Linked DNA regions of Homo sapiens: region 1 is linked to region 2. The links come from fine-mapping of genetic effects on gene expression. A gene starts in region 2. The other region holds a variant in brackets. All regions are shown on one strand. Distances are between the middles of the regions. Region 1 holds the start of LOC124903967 (a long non-coding RNA gene). Region 2 holds the start of MYO18A (myosin XVIIIA).

Evidence for each region.
Region 1: its variant is fine-mapped to the expression of MYO18A in whole blood (INTERVAL, PIP 0.99).

What each region holds. Positions count from the first base shown.
Region 1 is chr17:29,132,958-29,145,282 of GRCh38, forward strand. The region is part of intron 2 of MYO18A (myosin XVIIIA); the gene reads right to left. LOC124903967 (a long non-coding RNA gene) reads left to right here and starts at 7,517. Exons shown (of 3, transcript XR_007065693.1): 1 at 7,517-7,569. RefSeq lists enhancers at 4,762-5,745, 5,746-6,729, 6,422-6,471, 7,672-7,761, 7,912-7,961 and 1 more and a silencer at 7,162-7,211. The variant A/G (reference allele first, on the strand shown) is at 7,404.
Region 2 is chr17:29,175,350-29,187,674 of GRCh38, forward strand. It overlaps MYO18A (myosin XVIIIA), which reads right to left and starts at 5,049. Exons shown (of 42, transcript NM_078471.4): 1 at 4,964-5,049. RefSeq lists silencers at 1,522-1,721, 4,723-4,772, 4,893-4,942, 4,908-5,128.

The sequences.
Region 1 (12,325 bases), 42 kb before region 2:
GCACACAGGTTAGTGGGAGGACAAGTGTTCGCAAACCACACAGACACACTCATTACTGCACGCAGTGCTGTTAACTTGGGTGCCGGGGTGGCCCAGATTCCAAGTCCACTCTGTGTTCTTCACCAGCTCCAAATCTGTCCTCCCTCCAGTGGCTCAAGTTTGGGACCCCAAATGTCTGGCCCAAGGTGTGGCATTGGGGAAAACACTGGGTGCCCCCCAAGTGTCTGAAACACTGGGCCCAGCTCTGAGCTCAGCTCTGGATTTAGCATCAGGCTGACTCACTCCTCCCTCCCCCATCAGAAGGGCTCTGGCTGTTGTAGGTCACTGCCCAGCTGGGGACTATGCACACGCATAAAGGCACACACACAGGCAGTCCCAAGTCTGTGGCCTGAATCACCCTCTGGACCCAGGTGGCCAACTGGCCTGACTCCCCACCCTTGGCCCCTTGTCCTCCTAACCCACTGCAGCCCCCAGGATCAGGGAGACCCAGTTCCAGCGGTCCCTCCACAGCAGCCCACGTTCCAGGGGTGAGTCAAGGCAGCAGGGTGGTGGGAAGGGTGTGGAGGGGTTAACCCAGAGGGACACCAGCAGGACAAAAGGCAGCTCACCTTACCAGAGGTGGGGCTTAGGGGAGAAGCATGACTCAGTGCAGGAGCCCATCCAGCCAGAATAGGGAGTTCACCAGCCCCCGTCATTCTCCCTGCCACCCCCAATTATACACACATGCCCCAATCCATCTCTAGCTTCCAAAGCTCCCTCTCCCACAAGCCAGTCTCCTGCCTGCAGATACAACATGCCAAGCACACAGGAAAAACATAAAGATTTTAAAATCCAACTTTCCTTTTGCTCCCAGAAGGCGAACCTTGATGAAAAGGCCATGGCGCTGAAGGTAACCTGTGCCCTGGGTCAGAGAAGAAATGGGGGGCAGGGTCTCTCAGTGTCTCTGAGTCTTCCCAAAGGCCAGAACCTGCCAGGATAAACACTGTGGGCAACAAGGGGAAAGGAGGGATGGAGTGGAGGAGGAAGGATTACAAAACTCAAGAGGGCATTGGAGTAAGGAATAAAATATTAAAGGAAAATGAAGGAAAGTAGGCACAGAACATAGCACTCCCTACCCTTGGAAGCTGTGTGCATTGTTTTTATTTTTTTATTTTTATTTTTTGAGATGCAGTCTCACTCTGTAGGCCAGGCTGAAGTGCAATGGTGCCATCTCGGCTCACTGCAGCCTCTGCCTCCCGGGTTCAAGTGATTCTCCTGCCTCAGCCTCCCCGGCACCAACACGCCCAGCTAATTTTTGTACTTTTTAGTAGAGATGGGGGTTCACCATGTTGGCCAGACTAGTCTCGAACTCTTGACCTCAGGTGATCCACCCGCCTTGGCGTCCTAAAGTGCTGGGATTACAGGTGTGAGCTGACGTGCCCGGCCAGAAGCTGTGTGCTTTGAATAAGCCACTTCGCCTCTTTGGGCCTCTCTGTAGAATTAGGGGCTAGTCTAGACAATGGCTCAAGGCCTCTCCATGTCTGGCACCTTAGGAGTCTACGTGGGGAGAGGCACTCAAACTCTATTTATTTATTTATTTATTGAGTCGGAGTTTCACTCTTGTTGCCCAGGCTGGAGTACAATGGCGTGATCTCGGCTCACTGCAACCTCCACCTCCCGGACTCAAGCGATTCTCCTGCCTCAGCCTCCCAGGTAGCTGGGATTACAGGCGCCCGCTACCACGCCCGGCTAATTTCTGTATTTTTAGTAGAGACGGGGTTTCTCCATGTTAGTCAGGCTGGTCTCGAACTCCTGACCTCAGGTGACCCACCTGCCTCAGCTTCCCAAAGCGCTGGGATTACAGGTGTGAGCCACCACGCCCAGCCAACACTCAAACCCTTAATACAGTAAACCAAAGTTGCAGGCCTGTGACCTAGGAGAGGAATTGAGGAATCTGCCTCAGGACCCCAGCGACTTTGCCTTCCAGCTGTAACACACAATTACGTGGGGCAAGAGGCCCGGAGAACTGCAAAACTGTCCATCTATGGATTAGAAACCAGAGCTGGGCCGCTTGAAAAATCAAGTCAGAATCTGCCTCAGTCCAGGGAGAGGCTGCATCCAAAGAATCAGGGCACTTCAGTGGAGTTTAATAACTGGTTCTTTTTTTTTTTTTAATTGAGACAGAGTCTCATCTCACTCTATCACCCAGGCTGGAGTACAGTGGTGCAATCTTGCCTCACTGCAACCTCCGCCTCCCGGGTTCACGCCATTCTCCTGCCTCAGCCTCCCGAGTAGCTGGGACTACAGGTGTCCACCACCATGCCCAGCTAATTTTTTGTATTTTTTTAGTAGAGGCAGGGTTTCACCGTGTGAGCCAGGATGGTCTTCATCTCCTGACCTCGTGATCCACCCGCCTTGGCCTCCCAAAGTGCTGGGATTACAGAGGTGAGCCACCGCGCCCGGCCAAGAACTGGTTCATTCTTAAAACTGCTTATCATGAATAATAGTTAAAAATTAGGAAATGTTTTGTTTTCAATTAATTATTTCTATTTTGCTTTGTTGACTTCTGTTTTATTATTCAGTTAATGTGCTAGAGACTTTAAGTTTGTCTGTTGGTGTAATTTTAACTCGTTTGATCTTTGATCTCTTGTTCAAGTTTTCCTACTTGTCTATAGAGGTCCCATCTGGCCCAGGCTGTGAGGACACCGGGCCATTTCCACCCAGGCCTGTTCCTCTGCATCAGCTGTTCCTATGAGCTTCACTCTGAACACAGATGTGGGGCTCTCCCCAGAGGAAATTCTCTCTGTGGCTTTTATGCAGAATTGCCTAGACAGTTTTCCTCTCTCCCTTATCACTGAATTTGTTTAGGATCAAGAGCAAGTTATCCTGGAACTGGATTGTTTATAACCCAAAGGATAAATGCTTGAGGGGGTAGAGACCCCATTGTCCATTGCCCAAGCACATGCTTGTTTCTCAATGCATGCCCATATCAAAACAAAACATCTCATGGACCGGGCGTGGTGGCTCACGCCTGTAATCCCAGAACTTTGGGAGGCTGAGGTGGGTGGATTACTTGAGCTCAGGAGTTTGAGACCAGCCTGGGCAACACGATGAATCCTTGTCTCTACCAAAAACACAAAAAATTAACTGGGAACGATGGTGCATGCCTGTGGTCCCAGGTACTGGGGAGGCTGAGGTGGGAGGATCGCTTGAGCCTGGGAGGCAGAGGTTGTAGTGAGCAGAGATCGCAATACTGCATGCTCCAGCCTGGGTGACCGAGTGAGACCCCATCTCAAAAGAAAAAAAAAAAAAAAATATATATATATATATATATATATGTAATGTATCCCATAAGTACATAAACCTACCATGTACCCACAAAAATTAAAAAAAAAAAAGATCAAGTTACTGTTATCCAAGACAGAATGGGTAAGGAACTCAGGCCCCAAAGGTGGTGGCAGCATATGTGTTGGGAACATATGGCTCTCTGGAGCAAGGGTGTTTAGATCTAAGGCCTCTCTTCCTTGACTTGTTCTCTCTCTAGAGATTTCAGCCATTTCCAGCAACATTACTGAATATGGAGCACCTACAATGAGATGGGCCCTATACAAGATATTGAACATTTATTTTCTAATGTAAATCTTACAACAATCTGAGGATTGGTGATATGGGAATTATTATTATTCCCATTTTATCGAGGAGGGAAAAGATTCAGAAAGAGATTAAGTCACAAAGTTAGTTAAGTGGGGGAACCCAGACTTGAACCCACACTGGTCTGCCTCCAAAGCCTGTGCTGCTTCCTCAGTGCCCACCTTTTCTGGTATGTTAGGCAGGCATCAGCTTTGGTAGCCAAATCTGGTTGATAAACTTCATCGGCGTGAAGGTTCAGAAGATCTGGTCAAGCCAAAGCATGGATTGATAGTGTGTTTTACTAGTGTGCAACTCTCCAAATCGAGTTTTTGGATGTGCAAAAAGGGAGACCCCACCATGATTCTGCCACTCTGCAGGTCTACCCACCTCCTCCCTCTGTGGCACTTCTGAGGGACAGCAAGAGAGACCAAAACTCACTGAACACTTACTATGAGCCAGGCACAGGGGAAGGCACTTCATACAGGTCTCCTCATTGAATCCTCATAACAACACACTTTCTAGATAAGGAAATAAAGAAGGTGAATTGCCGAGAGCGCTGCAACTATTAAGTGGCAGAGCTGGGAGCCACAACCAGAATGTATCTTGGGGAGCTGTTTGTGCGTCTTTGTCATCCCTGGACTGTGATTCACCTCTGAGCAGAACTTACCCATCTTACTCATCATACTGTAGGCGCTTAATAAATGTTAGCTGCACGAGAGTGCTGGGACAGGGGTTCTTTGCACAAACCTCTTATTCCCATCTAATCTCTTCCCCAAATATAAACTACAGAGAACAACACTTGCCCATTCTGATTCCCAGGGACATGGTACAAACAAGGGAGGTATAATCTCTAAACCTGCTCACAATAAATACATAGTGAACTCAATGCCTGGGTTTGCAGGGAGGGCAAGGACACTGAAATTGCTTAGTAGCTCTTCGTGAACAATAGCCACAAAATGCATCATCCTCTGGCCTACCCATTCCATCTTCAGGAATGTATGTCCAGTGAGCTGACTTAAAGAAAGAAAAAGAAAAAAAACGCAAAGATTTTTATAGATGCACTCTATATAACAGCTCCAAATTGGAAAGAGCCCAAATGCCTAGAATTAAGAAATGGTTAGGTACAACCCGTTGTTGTATTGCCATTTAAACTGACAAATGTGTGGACAATGTAACCATATGGAAAGCTCCATATAAAATGACATCAATCAAAAAAACTGGAACCCAAATAGTATACAAACAGTGATCATAATAATCTTGTAAACTGTGTGAATTAGACACAACATGAACACCTGGTATTTATTTTGGTATGTATTTGTTACTTACTGCTTATTTTTATTGTGAAGATGGCTAAATAGTCAAAAAAAAAGCAAAGGAGATAATAGCTAGAAGCATTTGTTCTCAAAGAGGAGAAATCCAAGAAATGTACTGAGGGACTGTCAAGCCTCAGCCCCAGGAGGCTTCTGACACTCTGGGAGCAGCTGGGGTTTACCCTCCACCATGCCAGCAGAGCCTACCCGCCCTTAACCTGCACTCTCTGGGCCCCTCACAGGAGGGAATGGGGGCACAAATGCTCCTGGGAGAATAATGCCACGCCTCAGGCAGCCCCTCAGGCCTGGAATGCCTGGCCTGGACAAATGCTTTGAGGCCCAAGCATCCACACCAGACATCTGCACACTGCAAGCCCCCGAGAGCAGCAGGTAACTCTCAAGAGAGTGCCCAAAGGAAGCTGAGACGTAGCTGGTGGCCGAGGTCACTTTCCCGCCTCGCCGCTTCTGACAGCACTCACACACCGGAGGCTTCTCCTTCTGAGGACCAAGAGGCAGGGCATTCTCCTCTCCTCCCTCTTTCCCATTCAGAGGCACAGAGGGCAGCTCCCAGGAGACTTCTTCCTCCCAGTCCCAACCTAGCACCAACTTATCTAGGGATTGAGGGCGAGGAAGGGTGGCAGGAACAAAGGAGAAGGGAAGAAATACTAGCATAATAGTAAAAAACGGTTAATCATTATTGAGCATTTGGTATGTGTCAGGTGCTGTGCTGAATCCCTCACATGAATCATCTCATTTGATCCTCACAACATCCCTCTGAAATAGATACTAGTGTGACTGTGTGACTGCTACTTTACAAATGAGCAAAAGGAGGCTCAGAAGGTCAGGTGACTCGCCCAAAGCCTCACAGCAGCAAGTGGCAGATCTGGGACTCACACTCAGGTCTCCTGCGAGAGCCCTCCACTGCTCACTTTAAGGGATGGAGGCACGCCCTGCCCTCCATTTCCCCTGGTTCACCTGCACTGTTGTCCTTCTACATCAGCTGCCAGAAGAGCAGCTTGGGAGGAAAGCAGGGGTTCCCAATGATGACCCGCCCCTCCACCCACCAACCTGAATATGCTTTACGTGGAACTGCTTGAGAGGAAGGGAAGCTCTCTAAGGAATGAACTGAAGGCCATGCTGCCAGACAGCGGGGGAGGGGGAGATGAGCTTGGCAGGGACAACCTGGCCCTTGCAGTCCAGCCTCCAGCCAGAGCCCTCCCCAGCCCCAGGGCGGAACAGAAAGCAGCCGGGCACCCGCCTCACTGCAGGCCAGCCCAGAGGAAGCAGGTGCACTGGAATGGCTTCCTGCCGCAACTGCAGTTGCAGAAGGGTCTTGGTTTCCTCCTCCAACGACTGAACCTGCTGGAGGCCCCCCTTCCCTGGGGATGCTCACTGCCCCTCTGGAGGGCACTTTGCTGTCTGCTTGGATATCACTGTGCATGGCCCTAAATCTGTGACCTGGTGCTAGTGGCCCGGGGGTGGCTGGGGGAGAGTACCCTAGACCAGGAAGCGCCCATCTCTCAGGGTGAGGAGCTCTCTCTGACCTCTCCCCCACCCCCGGGCATACTGCCCACACAACTCAGCCCTGGTGCCAGTTTGGGGGCTGAGGCAGGGCAGTCCTGAGCACAGAGAGATACAAGTACTCACGGGTACATCTCAGGCTCCTGATGCACCTCCGCACCAGGCCAGCCCACGTACTCTGCCAACTGCTGACACAACTGAAAACCTTACCCTTGGTGGCTGGGAGGGGTAGAGTCAGGGGAACGGGAAGGACTGGGAGCAGCTATGTCTCTCCTCACTTTCTTTTTTAAGGAACTTACTTATCTGGAGTAATCTCTACTAAAAAAGAGACTTAGGGCCAGTCAGAGCATCCCCAACACGCCATCTGTGCCCCTTGCAAGTGTCCTATGCACAGAAATGGAGGTGGCCATGCTAAGACTACTCTTGGGGACAGCGAGAAGGGTGCTCCCTGACAACTCCAAGGACCATCCCCTCTCAAGGAGGAAGAGAGGAAAGAGCTATACCAGCAACAAAGCAGAGACAAGACTACCGAGGACCTTGGGTGCTGTGGGGCTGGGGCTTTGGAAGAAAACAGTGTTCTAAGGAATGAAGGCCAAAAAAGCACTAATGGTTGGTGGGGAAGGCGTGTCACAGCCTTGGGGGTGGATGCAACCCCAGGAAACTGAGGTTCAGAAGACAGTGCCCCTCCAAAACTCCTGAAGTCATGAGTCAGGCCCAGGATGCCCTGCTCCTAGCCACGGAGGGGTTTTGAGGCTTCCGGGGCTGAGTAACTCCCTTCTTACCAAGAAGCTCGGAGAGGAGCCCCAAGGCTGCCCCACCCCTCTCCCCACCTACTTCAGCCACATCTGGGGAAATCACAAAAAGGTCCCTCCTTTCCTAAATGAGGAAATAGCATGAGGAGCCTGGGACATTTCCGGGGTGGGGGGTCAGAGGGACACTCACCCGCATGGCCTGGCCTGGAGC[A/G]GCCCAGAGCAAGGAGACTCCGCTCTGATGCTGCTCTGGCTCCGTTAGCAGCTCAAAATAGCACAGGCTGTGGCCCCGCCCAGTTCCCGCCCTCTCCCCGGCCCCTCCCGTCCCGAGCTGCCCAGCCCTAGTTGGAGCCAGCAGCCCGGAGGACTTCGGGTATCAGGTATGCCAGGAGGGAGAGGGTGATACAGCAGTGTGTGTGGAAGGGAAGGAGAAGGCTCTTAGGGTAAAGCCATTGGGGTGGGGGGCAGGCAGTGTTAGGGGGTTAGGGCAAGGACAGGGAGGGTGAGACTTGCCTATGGACACACACCCCAGCTCCGGGACAGCTGGGCTGATATGGCTCCTAAAAATAGCAGAGGAATTTGAGACCTGCAGCCCCCGGCCCCACAGGCCAAGCTTGAGACAAGCACATGCGCACTCATGTGCATGTACACGTATACACACACACACACACACACCAGCATGCACGAACATTCAATCAACACAGTGTTCTTGAGAACACCCAAATCATAGGCCTACCCTAGCCATCTAATTACTGCGGCAGAGGCCAAGACAGCCACTAACGTCACATCCAAGACAGCACACGGGGCCCACTGCACACTGTGCCCAAACAGCAGCCGCAAAGCAGTCCTGTAAGGTCTGGCAGGAGCAGAGACCCACACGGGCAGGCCCACTTACTGCCCCACTGCCATCAGCACACAGGGGACATGCAGAGAATCAATTACACTCTCTTTGTTTACATCCCTCTCCCCTCCACAGACGCCAGGGACTGCACAGGCAGAGAGGAGGGTGGGGTGGGCCTCAGCCCTGCAGACAGAGGAAGTCATGGGTGTCTAGCCAATGAGTGATGGCTGCCTGTGAAAAGCCAGTGTTTCTTGTGAAGAGAAATCCTGGCCTGGCTCTCCAGTTAGCACCATGGGATGCCTAGACCAGGACTAGGGACCCGCTGAGACGCTGAAATGGGAGCTGGAGAACAGAATGTCAAGGGGCCAAAAGACAGGGAGAGCAAGTCTCAGAAGCCGTCAGCTCTGCAGAAAAAAGGAAACAGTCATTGCCTCCCTCTTCCTCTTTAGGAAAAAAAAAAAATGGGGTGGGGGTGGTGCTAGGAAGCCCTGATACAGAACCGCCTCCTAACCAGTCTGGCATACACCCCATGCTTCTTGCCCCTGGCCAGCTCTAAGGGCCATTGGTTCTATACATTGTCTGACTTTCTCCATGAAAAGATTGGTAAGCACTGCCAGAGAGGATGGAAACCCAGCCCTGCCTCCTACCTGCCATGCGCTGTCCAAGTCTCACTGTCATATAGTCACATACACAGACTCTTAGGACACGGCGCTTGTGTCCTGCTCTCTAGGGAGTGGGATGTCCCCCCAGGGGAAGCATCTGGCCCTTCTGAAGCACGTGCAGTGTCACAGGTCTTCACATCTTCAGTGGCTACTTAGAACAATGGTGCCAGCCTCAGCTGCTCACTGAAATCCACTGGGGAACTTGAAAAAAATACTGATGCCTGGAGCCCACCCTTTCCCTCTCAGTTTCTGACATAATTGGTCTGGGAGCAGGGGCCTGGGCACTGGGATTTTTTTGTTTTTGTTTTTTTTTGAGACGGAGTCTCGCTCTGTCGCCCAGGCTGGAGTGCAGTGGCGTGATCTCGGCTCACTGCAAGCTCCGCCTCCCGGGTTCACGCCATTCTCCTGCCTCAGCCTCCCGAGTAGCTGGGACTACAGGCGCCTGCCACCATGCCCGGCTAATTTTTTGTATTTTTAGTAGAGACGGGGTTTCACCGTGGTCTCAATCTCCTGACCTCGTGATCCGCCCGCCTTGGCCTCCCAGAGTGCTGGAATTACAGGCGTGAGCCACTGCGCCTGGCTGGACACTGGGATTTTTTATTGATAAAAGCTCCCCAGGTGATTCTCACATGCAGCCAAGGCTGAGAACTGCAAGACTCTAAGGCCAGCATAAGGCCTAGCACAGAAATGTCCATTTGTTAAATGAATGAGTGAATGAATGAATGATTTAGCTGTGTGAACACAGGCAGGTGACTTAAATTTCCCTTATCTGTAAAATGAGGATTACACCTTTACTGACTCTTACCCAACCAGTATGAGACTGGTACATAATGTATGTGAAAGGGCTTTGGTTCTCCAAGTTCTCAGGCCAGCAGCGTGGGCATCCCCTGGGGACTTGTTGGAAATGCAAATTCCAGGAACCCAACCCAGACCTGCTGAACCAAGAACTCTGGATATGGGGTGCAGCATCTGTGTTTTAACTAGGCTTCCAGGTGATGCTGAGGCACATTAAAGTCTGAGAAGCACGGCTTGAAAGGAATGATTCACAGCATACCATGGTTAGGAGTATGACCTCCAGGGCCACACGGCCTGGTTTAATCTTGGCTCTTGCATGAAGTAAACTACACAACTTGATCTCTCTGTGTTTCAACTTCTTTTCATTTGTATTTTATTTTTTGAAATAGAGTCTCACTCACTCTATCGGCTGGAGTACAGTGGCTCCATCTCGGCTCACTGCAACCTCCGCCTCCCAGGTTCAAGCGATTCTTGTGCCTCAGGCTCCTGTGTAGCTGGGATTACAGGCAGGCGCCACCACGCCCAGCTAATTTTTGTATTTTTAGTGGAGACGGGGTTTCACCATTTTGGCCAGGCTGGCCTTGAACTCCTGACCGCAAGTGATCTGCCCGCCTTGGCCTCCCAAAGTGCTGGGATTACAGGCGTGAGTCACCATGCCCAGCCTCTGTGCTTCAATTTCTTCATTTGTAAAATGGGAAAATAATAGCACCTACCACATGGGGTTATTACATGGGTTAAAAGAATTAGTTCATACATAGCTCTGAGAACGGTGTCCAGCACATTCATTTTCAATACTTAAAACAAAACAAACAAACAAAAGCTCTTTTGCCCAGGCTGGAGTGCAGTGGCACTATCTTGGTTCCCTGAAATCTCCATCTCCTGGGCTCAGCCCATCCTCCCACCTCAGCCTCCGTAGTAGCTGGGATCACAGGCATGCACCACCGTGCCACCATGTAGGTTTTTTTTTTTTTTTTTTTTGCACAGATGGGGCTTCCCTATGTTGCCCAGGCTGGTCTCAAACTCCTGCACTCAAGCAATCCACCTGCCTCAGCCTCCCAAAGTGCTGGGATTACAGGCATGAGCCACCACATTTGGCCTTAATACATTTTAACTATTATTATCTACCTATGATCATAAGCGGGGGAAAAAATGAGGCATTGTAAGCAAAATTTCCAGGTAACTGGAGCCTACCCTTTTTAAGGGATAAAAGATTTAAGTCATTTTCTAAATTCTATACTATTTATAATCCTAAAAATAACCAACATATATACCCTGCTTCCTTAAGTACAACACTCCTAATTCATCTCAAAGATCTCACACTCTGAGCTTTCCTTCTTGAACCCAATCCATTTCTGCTCCATCCTGTACTGAAGGGCACGCCATCTCCACCATGATGACTCCTGACTTCCTGGCCTGGCTACAGCAGCCTGGCTTCTGCCCCACCAATGCCCCAGCCTCTCTCCAAGGGCACCAGCCCCTCTTAGGCACCACCATGCTGAAGCCTTGCATATGCCTATATTAGGAAGGCCAGATGCCCTTTGTGGCCATATGTCTGCTTTTTAATTCTTTTGTCCCCTACCTCATTAGGCCATCAGCTGTCACTCGTCTGTCAGTGTGCCTGTCTCCACTCAGCTTCACATGCAACTACAGCTAGTCCCTCTGCTGCCCAAAGCGTGGTGGTGCAATATCAGGGCATGGTCCATTTCTTTGATGAGTCTAACTGATGGCTCCAGAGGCCATGTGGACACTCCCACAGCCAGCCAGGCCACCCCAAGCCCCTCAGCTTGCCTCCAAGGACAGCTGGAAGCTATAATCTGGCCCCTCCTCAGACTTTACTTTCACTTTTCTAGTCTCTTCTCCCTCTTCCCAGCCAGCCTGGCTCTCCGTCATTTGCCTGCCCTTGTCACCACCAGAGCCATTCCTTACGAATGTGTCTCTACCTTGGCTGACCCTCTCCATCTCTCCAGGCCCATCTCAACTCCTGCCTCCCTTATGAAGCCTTCCCTGAAACCCAAGACCCACCCGGCAATGCAAAGAACGTGGGCTTGGCAGCCAGACACACCTGGGTCTGAATCCCAGCCTCTTTCTTGCTGTCTGACCTAAGGGAAAGTTACTTGACTTCTTAGAGTTTCTACCTTTTTGGCCTTAAAATAGTATGATATCCACCTTATGAGGCTGTTATAAGAATAGAAAAGGCAGTACATGTAAAGCAACTGATGTGCGGCCTGGCAAATTATAGTTATTAAATTATTAATATCATTATTATCATAAACCATAGCACTCACTGTCCACACCTGAACACATTACATACATACGGTTCTTGGTTATACTCAATATGGTGCTCTATTATATACAGTGGAGTCACACACTATGTGGGGTTAGATTCCAAAGTCAGCACGTAAGGCAAAAATAGAATATAGTCCAAAACTCCTGAAAATCCCTTAAACTGCTCACAAAGTATAGTACACATGATTTTGAGTATGCCATTTGGTATAATATAGCTGCAGGAAAGCATAATAGTCATGTACAGCATATAGTAAAAACACACAAAATATTATTTTTATAATTTTAGGCTACAGTAATATAGTTTCTTTCACAACCATATAGTTGAACTTATTGAAGTTTACTGTCCACGTGCCATGACTATACAGCATAACTAATGTTCTGAATGATAATCGATTCGTGTTGAATGTTTAAGCCTGCTCTCCCTGGAGAGCTGGGACCATTTCCTACTTCCTTTATATCCCATCCCGTTCCCCAGCACTAGGCACACAAAAGGTGTTCCACGAAAATCCATATGGATTTAACCAACTGATCTGAACGGTGCACGCACAATAA
Region 2 (12,325 bases):
TACTTTTATTTCATCTTTTTTTTTTTTTTTTTTGAGACAGGGTCCCACTGTGTCCTCCAGGCTAGAGTGTGGTGCGATCTCGGCTCACTGCAGCCTCAACCTCCTGGGACTCAAGCGATCCTTCCCACCGCAGCCTCCTGAGTAGCTGGGACTACAGGCACTCGCCACCACACCCAGCTAACTTCTGTATTTTTTGTAGAGACAGGGTCTTGCCATGTTGCCCAGCCTGGTCTCAAATTCCTGGGCTCAAGCAATCTGCCTATCTCAGCCTCCCAAAGTCCTGGGATTACAGGTGTGAACCACTGTGTCCGGCCTACTACAGAAATTTTTTAAATATTTATATAAGATGATATTTTATAAAACATATATTAAACTATAAACATATATAGTGCCTAAAATATATATAACAAGCTTTTAAAAAGCAGTCTGGCCAGGCGCAGTGGCTCACACCTGTAATCCCAGCACTTTGGGAGGCCGAGGCAGGTGGATGACGAGGTCAGGAGTTCAAGACCAGCCTGGCCAAGATGGTGAAACCCTGTCTCTACTAAAAATACAAAAAAGTAGCCGGGCGTGGTGGCGGGCGCCTGTAATCCCAGCTGCTCGGGAGGCTGAGGCAGAGAATTGCTTGAACCCCGGAGGCGGAGGTTGCAGTGAGCCAAGATTGCGCCACTGCACTCCAGCCTGGGTGACAGAGCGAGACTCCTTCTCAAAAAAAACAGCAGTCTGGAAAAATTCGATCCAAAAATTTATCAGTGGTCATCTCTGGAGAGTAGGGGAGAAGAAGGGTAACACTTTAGTAACGCTTTAGCTTTCTACCTAATGATTCAACTTTTTTCCAGACTAAAAAAAAATGGACAAACTAGTAGGCAATCCACCAGCAGTAAAGCTGCAAACAGGGTAATGGTCAGTTTAAGGATTGCCTTCATGTCTTGAAAAAGTTTCAGTGGCTTGGGGGACTTGGTTAAAATAGAGTTCACTGGTGTCTTGTGGCTGTAAGTGGGGACACATTTAAATGGGTCACCTAGCAGCTGGCAAAAGAAAAAAAAAACCCAGGAAATGGAAACTATAACGTTAGAGTCCCAAGACAAGGGTGCCCAGAGTTGGCTGTGGTGGATAGATACTTAGGTCAGTCCTCCCACCCCCACCCCCAGACCACACTCATAAATAAATACAAAGGAAATACTTTCCCGAGAGAGCCGGCCTCTCTCCCTTGGCCTCTGACCTCCCTGAGCGGCCGTTTCCTCCAGCCCCGGGACCCCGGCTCTCTCCCCGCGCTCTGCCCCTCGCCAAGGGTTGTAGCAGCGGCCGGAGGGGTAGCCAGCACCTGGCCTGGCCCCGTGCTCCAGGGGGAGCCTCCTCCCGGCCGGCTGTGCTGAGCTCCGCAGCGCCGGGTGACTCCCTGCCAGGTCACACGGAGCTTATCTGGCTCCAGGTGTGCTCCCTCACGCCGACTGCACGCTTCTCACGTGACATTAGCCAGCCCTCACGCCGCCGCGCGGGGAGCCGGGCGGCCCTTGGCGTTTCCCCGCGGCTGGGCCGGCGCAGCCGCAGCCCCGCGGCGCCTCCCGCTGCGATCCCATCTCCCCCGGAAGGCAGCAATCCCGCGGGCCATGGAGGAACGCGAGCGGGAGAGCTCCTGCGGCCTCGCCAGGTTCCCTGCTGCTCTTCCAGGTGCACCGCCTGGCGCTCAGTTCCGCTAACATCCCCTTCCGTGTGACCTTGAGCAAGTCCCCTCCCCTCTCTAAGCCTCCACTATTTCAGCTACAGTTATCTTCAAGGGCCTGACAGCTCAGATTTGGCCCTCAGCCTCTGCTGGAGAGCTATTCTGCTCAACCACACACTGCAGGTTGTAATCCCGCTCTGCCTCTGACTTGCTGTGTGACCTTCAGCCCATCATCCAACCTCTCTGAATATTAGAGAATAATCACAATAATCTCTTGTAAGTGATGATAAACTACTTGGCAGACAGAAAGGGCCCTGGGTCCTGTAAAATCATCAGTCTAACAACCAAAACTGCTGCCTGACTCTAAACTGTTTAAAATGTCAAGGGAAATTGACATTTTACAAGCCCTGCAATTCCTACCTCAAAAGAAGGGCAGGGAAGTGAAGGTGGGAAGTGGAGGCTCACCAGGTCTGCTCACCACCCCTCCCAATCCAGCTCCTACCTCGGCACCTCCCCAACTCCTCTAATTCAGGCCACCTTGGAAAATGCTAGGGGGAAGAAATGGTGATGGGGTGGGGTGTGCAGATCTTAAAGCACCCGGGGGTCTGACCCAAAGCAGAACTTAAACTCCATCAAGCTGCCCTACCAATCCCAAGTCCTGTGGGAACCTGTCAATTACAGCAGACAGTGGGCTGGGCCCTCCTACTGCCCCAAACCTTTAAACTACAACCAGCCAGAGCCCCTCAGTTTTCCCACCACACTCAGGCCTGGGACCCCAGGCCACCAACAAAACCCAGCTCACGTGGATGCTCTGGCTCCTGCCTGTGGCGTCCACCCCAGGTGAGAGGATCTGGCTGAGGAGAGACCTCTGGTTTGAAGGATTAAGAACAGCCCTGCTGCCCTGAAGACCTGTGACACAGCAAGTCCAGATGAAGGCTTCCTGAGTTCCAACAACTCCCAGCTCCACCTCAGCAGGGTGGATTCTCCCTTTCACATGAGCCCCAGTTCTGCCCCACCCAGTCCACCTTTAGGTACCTGCCTCTGGGGGACCCAGAGTTTTCAGGCCCAGTTTCTGAAGACACATGCAGTCCTCAATGAATAGCCACTACCAGGGCCAGTGAGGGGGCCTCCAGGGAACTGGCTGGCTACCCAGACAGCCCAGGAGTGAGGCTGAGAGACCAGGTGGGAGTCAGGAAGGGCATAACCCACATGAGGAAAGTCTGGGGCGCAGGAGGAAGCCCTCAGGCACACACTCTGGCACCTGGGCCAGGCCAGGAGAGAGTAAACAAACTAGACACTCAGAGCTACCAGGCACCAGGTCATCAACTGTTCAAAGTTCAAAGCTCCCAAAGGAAGTGACCGCCAGCCTGTGGCCCCTCCCATGCCCACCCTCCACCCCCACCTACAACCCTTCTCATTCCCCTAATCCCTCAACACAATAGCTGCCCCCAAAGCCATGGTTTTCCTGGAATTGAGGCCACAACCCCCATGTCCTCAACCCAAAATGGACAAGCACACCTCCACCCGAGGCTATATATAACCCGTCATGTCAAATCCAGAAACCAGGAGGATGTTTCCTGGAAAGACTTCATCACAAAAAAACAGAGAGGAAGCTGAGGAGGTGGGAAGCCATGGACAAAGAGCCAGTGAGGCTTGTCAGGAAGCCAGAGACCTCAGGAGAGCAACTTTCAATATCTCCAGATAGAAAGTAGCCCCTGAACTAAAAAGGGTGGGGAACATTAGGCCAGGCCTGTTGCCACAACAACAGGGCACCAACCTGCTCAAGAAAAGGGCTCCAAAGCACAAGGGAAAGGCGGCTGATTCAATGGGCTCTGTACTCACCGTCCTGCTCAGGTGATCTTGCTCTTAATCACCCAGGTGGCCTCCCCTCCCTTCCAGCACACCCCAGTGCATACACACTTCCCAGAGCTCACTTGCCACAGGGGCACTGATGAGGCCTTCTCGGCCACAGACACGCCAGGGGCTCCAAAAGACAAGACGAACCCACACTAACTAGCCCAAGTCATTGGCAGGGTGAAGCAGGGAGGGAATCCAATTCTTTAATTCGGGGTGGCCATCTGAGGGAATGAAAGCCCTAGCCAGGACAGTCCCTCTCAGGAAGCATTCCCCCAGCCCTCCCCACACAAATACAAACTATGAGGCCAGCGCCAAACACATGCCCCATTGGCAAAGTGGTCAGGCAAAATGAATACCCGCTCAAAAACAAACTGGCTGTCTTCCTCCCCATCTCCCCCACCCCCCACCTCTAGCTCATTCTGGCCGCAACCTTTCCAACTAATCAGCAAGACACATGTGCCTTGCAGTAGGGCAACTCCCCCATCTCCACCCCCAAAACAAAGCCCCAATGCCTGGCCTGTCCCTGCGGGCCTTATCGCACCCAGGAACATGACCCACACTCCTGGCCGGGTTTGGGACCAAGGAGCGCACCCCCACTAACAAGGGGCAGGGTGAGGGGGCAGCCACCCCTACCACCTCCCCTTCCCATTGGCGAAACAACTGGCATGACAGGTTAGCAGGGCGGGGCGTCGGGGCGGTCTCTCCAGAGGCCTGGGGCAGCTTGTCCGACCTTCCCACACGCACCCCACCCCTCTGCAGGGAAAGGTGAGGTGAGCATTCAGTCTCAGGGCACAGCCTGCACTCCCTAATCCCCAAAGCCTGCCACCATTCACCCTCTCATCTTCTGTCCCAAGAGGAGGGGGCCCAGGGAAGCGGGGTCTCCATTGTTTTGCCAGCTGTCTAGCAGCTGCTCCTTTGAGAGGAGCCCGCAGTCTGCCCGGCAGTGAAAGAGTGAAGGCCGCTGGGAGGGATAAAAGGGTCGGTAGAGGTGCTCCCCTTCCCCGCTGCCTTCCTCAGCGCCCCGCTCTCTCGCTCGCTCCATCGTGGGGCCTGGACGGGGGCAGGAGAAGTCCCCCCACCCTCGAGGCTGCAGCCCCCACCCCGCAGCTCCGGGCCACCTGGGCGCCTCCAAGCCCCAAATCCCCCCACACTGAAGGCCACCCTGTCCTGCCTCCCTGCGCCCCCCAGGTTGGCTGGAAGGGCCGGTGGTTCCCCCTTCCCCGCCGCTCCCGATCGGCCCCCACCCCCGGGCGTCGAGCTCCACGGCGCCGCCAGGGACGGGAGCCGGGAGTCCGGGCCGCTGCTTCCAGGGGACGGGGGAGGAGGAGGAGGAGCCGGCGGGCCCCGCCGCCCGCCCGCCCTCCCTCCCGGCCGGAGCCCGCCCCGCCGCCCCACCAAGCCGGGCCCGCCACCGAGCGGCCGCCGCCGCCGACCGGCACTCACCGGCCACCGGAGCCCGCCCGGCAGGCAGCAGAAGCGGAGACGCGGCATCCAGCAGCCTCGGCCCGGTCAGGGATGGAGCAGAGCGCAGCGCGGCGCAGCTCAGCGCCGCCCCCAGCGACCGCGCAGGCCGAGCCGAAAGGGAGCTCCCTGCTGGCGGCTGTGGGGATAAACGCCCGGCCTGCCTGGCAGCGCCAGTGCGCGCCGCCAGACGTGGGCCAGGCGGGCCGGGCGCTGCCCTGGCAGCCTCCGTCCGCTGTGGACTCCGAAGCCCCTCTCGCTGTGTCTGAGAGAGGCCCTGCCTGGAGTTTCTGTCTGCACTGGGCACTGGAGGCTGTCCGAAAAGGGTCCGAAAGGGGCTGAGTGGCACTGCCTAGGACAGGCACCAGGGTCATGATGAACGTATAGAAGAGGGGCTGTCCAAGGCAGGCACCGAACTCTGCAGGCTGTGTTCAAGGTAGTGCTGTCTAAAGGAAGCAATTAAGTCTTACTGGCCGCCTCCTCCCAAGGTGGCTCTGCAGAGGCACACACAGGGCCCTGCTGGATGGTGCCCCAGGCTCAGTCCAGACCAGGTACTGCCTGCCATGTCCGAGATGGCACTGCCAGAATGCACTCCCCAAGGTAAAAACAGACTCCCAATAGCTTGGTCTGATACAGCCCTGCCTCAAAATGGAGTGGATCAAGAGGCGTACCAGGGCCCGGGAGCCATGGCTGTAAGTGCCACTCACTCCCTAAAGGAGTTCACCAATGCCAAGATTAACACTTTCAGAAGCTCTTTGGAATGCAGTCTGTCCCTGGGTCCACTGTGTGCTGTAAATATCAAGTGAGCTGCTGTACCCACCAAGAAGACAGTTTATACTTCCTGGGAGAGGCCAAGGGACATCCAGATACCAGGCCTCCAAGATAGGTGCTATGTCTAGAGTTTGGAGAAAGAAAGAAATGGGGACACTTCCCTGGGCAGTGTCCATGCTGGAGTGGGGTGTGCCAGAATGTGGAAGAAACTGAGTGGGGTGGTGCAGGAAGAAGGGTGTAGCAGACAAATGCTGCTACCTCCCTAGACAGCCCAAACAGGAACTTCTCCAGGCAAGGGCAGCCCAACCTGACAGACCAGGGAAGGCTGGAGCAAGGAGGCTCAGAAAGCAGAGAGTTGAGTAAGAGTTAGGGAGTTCCTGAGGAATAGACCCAGGCGGGATACACATTTTGGAATAACATGCAACTCAAATTCAATTTAACAAACTGCCTGCTAAGTGCCAAGTGCAGCCCCAGGCACTTGGGGTGACACAGAAGGAGATCAGACATGGCATATCTCCAGGGAAATCACATGGGGAACAGGTAGACCTGAGCTGTGACAGTAGTAGGGTTCACCATGCTGGCATTACTTGGATGATGAGATAGGTGCTATGATGGGAGGCTTATTTGGCTTGAGGAGTGAGAAGAGCAGCTTCAAAAACATGACATTTGAGGCCAGGCATGGTGGCTTATGCCTGTAATCCCAGCACTTTGGGAGGCTGAGGTGGGCAGATCACTTGAGGCCAGCGTTCAAGACCAGCCTGGCCAACATGGCGAAACCCCATCACTACTACAAATACAAAAAATTAACCAGGCGTGGTAGTGCATGTCTATAATCCCAGCTACTTGGGAGGCTGAGGCAGGAGAATCTCTTGAACCTGGGGAGCAGAGGTTGCAGTGAGCGGAGATTACACCACTGTACTTCAGCCTGGGCGACAGAGCAAGACTCTGTCTCCAAAAAAGAAAAAAAAAAAACCCCAAAAACATGACATTTGAGCGGAACCTTGCAGGCTAAGTAGGACAACGACTATCATTAGTGTTTCCTGAGTACCTATTATATACTAGACACTATCTCTACTCCTCACAATGAACCTATGAGGGAGACATTATTATTATAGATAGGGGTTGAGTGCATGGACTCTGGAGCTGGATTGCCTGGATTCAAAATCTCAGTTCTGTAAAGTACTAGCTGTGTTACTCTGGGTGATTTTTTATAAATCACCTCTCTGTGCTTCACTTTGCTCATCCAAAAAATTGGGATAATAACAGTGACTCCCTCCCTCAAAATTTGTTTTGAAAATTATATAAGCTTAGTCTTTTCAACACATGGGGCTTTTCAACAAACTGGACATCCACATGCAAAAAAAAAAAAAGGGGGGGGTCTAGACACAGACTTTATACCCTTCACAAAAATTAACTCAGAATAGATTATATACCTAAATGTAAAACACAAAACTATAAAACTGTCTCCTAGAGGATAACATAGGAGAAAACCTAGATGACCTTGAGTATCACAATGACTCTTTAGATACAACACCAAAGGCACCATAAAAGAAAGAGCTGATAAGCTGGGCTTCATTAAAATTAAAAATGTCTGCTCTGCAAAAGACTGTCAAGAGAATGAGAAGACAAGCCACAACTGGGATAAAATATATGCAAAAGACATCTGATAAAGGATTGTTATCCAAAATACGCAGAGTTTTAAAAACTCAACAATAAGAAAATGAACCACCCAATTTAGAAATGGGCAAAAAACCTGATCAGACACCTTACCAAAGAAGATATACAGATAGCAGTAAGCAAAAGAAAAGATATTCAACACTGTATATCATTAGAGAATAGCAAATTAAAGCCAGGTGCGGTGGCTCACGCCTGTAATCCCAGCACTTTGGGAGGCTGAGGCAGGTGTGTCATGAGATCAGGAGCTCGAGACCATCCTGGCTAACATGGTGAAACCCCGTCTCTACTAAAAATATGCAAAAGACATCTGATAAAGGACTGTTATCCAAAATATGCAAAGAGTTTTAAAAACTCAACAATAAGAAAACCACCCAATTTAGAAATGGGTAAAAAACCTGATCAGACACCTTACCAAAGAAGATATACAGATAGTAGTAAGCAAAAGAAAAGATACTCAACATTGTATGTCACTAGAGAATAGCAAATTAAAGCCAGGTGCAGTGGCTCACGCCTGTAATCCCAGCACTTTGGGAGGCCGAGGCAGGTGGATCAGGAGGTCAAGAGATCCAGACCATCCTGGCCTACATGGTGAAACCCTGTCTCTACTAAAAGAACAAAAATTAGCCTGGTGTGGTGGCATGCACCTGTAGTCCCAGCTACTCAGGAGGCTGAGGCAGGAGATTCACTTGAACCCAGGAGGCAGAGGGTGCAGTGAGCCGAGATTGCACCACTGCACTCCAGCCTGGGTGACAGAGCAAGACTCCGTCTCAAAAAATAATAATAAATAAAAAATAAAAGAGAATAGCAAATTAAGATGACCATGAGGTAAAACTACTTTATTTACCTAAATTTGGATTTTGGCCAAAATCCGAAATGCCAACAACTCCAAATGCTAGCAAGAATGTAGAGCAACAGGAACTCCCATTCTCTGCTGGTAGCAAAATGGTATAGCCACTTTGAAAGACAGTTTGGTGGTTTCTTAGAAAATGAAACATATTCTTACCATACAATCCAACAATCCCACTCCTTGGTATTTATCCAAATGAATTGAAAACTTATGTCCACACAAAATCCTGCACATGATGTTTGTAGCAACTTTATTCATAATTGCCAAAACTTGGAAGCAACCAAGATGAACTTCAGTAGGTAAATGGACAAATAACCTATGGTATATCTAGACAATGGCATATTATGTGGCACTAAAAAAGAAATGAGCTATCAAGCCATGAAAAGACATGGAGGAAACTTAAATGTATATTAATAAGTGAAAGAAGCTGATCTGAAAAGGCTACATGTTGTATGATTCCAACTATATGGCATTCTGCAAAAGGCAAAACTATGGAGACAATAAAAAGGTTAGTGGTGCCATGGATTAAGGTTGAGGGAGGGATGAAAATGCAAAGCACAGAGGATTTTTAGGGCAGTGAAACTCTTCTGTGTGATACCGCACTGTTGAATACATGTCATTATGTGTTTGTCAAAACCCACAAAATGTACAACACCAAGAGTGAATCCTAATGTAAACCATGGACTTTGGGGGATACTGATGTGTCAATGTAGGTTCATCGATTGTAACAAATGTACAACTCTGGTGAAGAGTGTGATCGTGGGGAAGGCTGTGCATGTGTCGGGGCAGGGGGCATATGGGAAATCTCTGTACTTTATGCTCAATTTGGCTGTGAACTTAAACTGATTTTTAAAATAATATTTATTATTATTATTTTGAGACAGGATCTCAGTCTGCCACCCAGGCTGGAGTGCAGTGCTGTGATCTCAGCTCACTGGAACCTCTGCCTCCCAGGTTCAAGTGATTCTCCTGCCTCAGCCTCCCAAGTAGCTGGGATTGCAGGCATGTGCCGCCACACCAGGCTAATTTTTGTATTTTTAGTAGAGATGGGGTTTCATCATGTTGGCCAGGCTGGTCTCAAACTCCTGGCCTCAGGTAATCCACCCACCTTGGCCTCCCAAAGTGCTGGAATTACAGGCGTGAGCCATTTTGCCCGGCCTTGTATTTATTAATTTTTAAAAATTACATGATTTAATATATAAAAAGAACAATGCCCAGTACATGGTAAGCATTCTATAGCTGTTAGCTTGGTTATCTTTCCTAACTCATAGTTGTGGAAATGAAGCACAGACAGCTTTGTGACTTGTACCCAGCCTAAGAGTAGCAGAGTCAGGATTCAAACTGAGGTCCCTAAGGCTCCAAAGCCCATTCTTTTCCCTACACCATGGCAGTGAAATGAATAGGTATATTAACAACTCTTTTTTTTTTTTTTTTTTAGGAAGAGTTTCACTCTTGTTGCCCAAGCTGGAGTGCAATGGTGCCATCTTAGCTCACTGCAACCTCCGCCTCCCAGGTTCAAGCGATTCTCCTGCCTCAGCCTCCCAAGTAGCTGGGATTACAGGCGCCCGCCACCACACCTGGCTAACTTTTTGTATTTTTAGTAGAAACAGGGTTTCACCATGTTAGCCAGGCTGGTCTCAAACTCCTGACCTTAGGTAATCCGCCTGCCTTGGCCTCCCAAAGTGCTGGGATTACAGGCGTGAGCCACCACATGCCAGTCAACAACTCTTTTATTTACATGTGTCTACACCTAGGGCACTCTCTGGGTAGCATATGGTGTCCCTGAGAGCTCTTCTTGCCTGAACCAGGAACCAGTTTCAGACACTAAGCAAGACTGAAACTCCAGGGCAGCACTCACACTGACACAGTAACTCTGGTTCTTCGTCACTTGATTTTAGTCTTTTCCTTCCCAAATGCCAGAATAAACCCTGCCCTAGCTCTAAGTAAAAGTAAAAGTAAAGCACCCCTCTCCTCTTCGCACAGAAAAAAGCCAGAGCAGTATCCACATAAAATCACCCAGATGGTCATGGGAAGGCCAATTTTTCCAGAAGATTCCTAAAGTCCTAAAATGATCCGACTTTAATCAAGAAGCCCTCCACCCCAGAAAGAAGCTGGGTAATAAAAATCACTTATATCAAGGGAGCCTAACTATGGGTCAGGCACTATGCTAACCCCTTAATCCAATGTCTCACTTAATCCCCAGAATTACCATATTAGGGAGATGCTAGTCTTATCCCCATTTCACAGATTAGAAACCAGGCTTGGGAAAGTGAATTAATTTGCCCAAGGCACTGTGACTAATAAACAGCAGAGCCTGGAATGCTTGCCCTGAAGCTCTGGGCTGCATCCTGGGTGGAGTGGTGAGTGCCTGGGCTTTGGGGCCTCACAGAGAGGATGCTTGGCTCTAGCAGCTGCCAGCAAGCTCCTTAGCCTCTCTAAACCTCAATTTCCTCATCTACAGAAGAGGTATAATAATGTGGCCAGGCGCAGTGGCTCACGCCTGTAATCCCAGCACTTTGGGAGGCCGAGGCAGGCAGATCACGAGGTCAGGAGATAGAGACCGTCCTGGCTAACATGGTGAAACCCCGTCTCTACTAAAAAACAAACAAACAAACAAAAAAATTAGCCGGGCGTGGTGGCGGGCGCCTGTAGTCCCAGCTACTTGGGAGGCTGAGGCAGGAGAATGGTGTGAACCTGGGAGGCAGAGGTTGCAGTGAGCTGAGATCCCACCACTGCACTCCAGCCTGGGGGACAGAGCAAGACTCCGTCTCAAAAATAATAATAATAATAATATTAATATTGCCTACCTTGTAAGGGTGTGAGATAATAAAATAAGCAAATTCATTTAAAGCAATTAGCCCAGTGCTCGAAACACAGTAAGTGGTTAACAAGTGTTAGGAATTATTAATCTCTCTGAACCTCTATTTCTTCATCTGTAAAATGGAGGCTGATAATAATATGTAGAGTTACTGTGAGGCTTAGAAGATATAGCAAATGGTAAAGTGTGTAAGATGATGCCTATCATGTGGTAAGTTACCACGATATGACTCTCCAAAAAGAATTGAAAATAAGCAAGTCTGCTTTTTTAAAAGTCCACAGAATTGCAAATCTGCCTGATAGCTGGTGTTGTTCAAACGTCAAAAGCACACCTTTAAATATTGTTCCTCAAACATTTATTAGCTTATTGCATTTATTAGCTTAAGATCCTTTACCCTTTGTGCAGAAACTTGGAGTGTGGGTGGAGAATGCTCTCCAGGAAACTTAAAGCTAAATTCTTAGAGTATTGGCTGAAGATCAGTCCAAAATGAAGAAACTCGTCTCTGAAATGAGGTAAAAAAGCTACTAACAGGAAGTCAAACACATATACATGTAAACAAAATAATATAATAAACCCCCAAGTAGCCAGCATACAACTTCAATAGTTATCAACTCACAGAAATATTGTTTCAACTATCTTTCCACCTACTCCCCAACCCCCACACTGAGTATAATTTTGAAGCAAATCCCAGATATCAAATAATTTTATATAAAAATATTTCAGGCCGGGCCGGGCGCGGTGGCTCATACCTGTAATTCCAGCACTTTGGGAGGCCAAGGTGGGAGGATCATGAGGTCAGGAGATTGAGGCCATCCTGGCTAACACAGTGAAACCCCGTCTCTACTAAAAATACATAAAATTAGCCGGGCATGGTGGCAGGAGCCTGTAGTCCCATCTACTCAGGAGGCTGAGGCAGGAGAATGGCGTGAACCTGGGAGGCAGAGCTTGCAGTGAGCCAAGATCATGCCACTGTACTCCAGCCTGGGTGACAGAGTGAGACTCAAAAAAAGTAAAAATCAAAAAAAAAATTAGGATAAAAAAAAATTTCAGGCAGGTCGTTGTGGCTCATGCCTGTAATCCCAGCACTTTGGGAGGCTAAGGCAGGCAGATCACTTGAGGTCAGGAGTTCGAGACCAGCCTGGCTGACATGGTGAAACCCTGCTTCTACTAAAAATACAAAAAAATACAAAACAAAAAAAATTAGCCTGGCATGATGTGTGTCTGTAGTCCC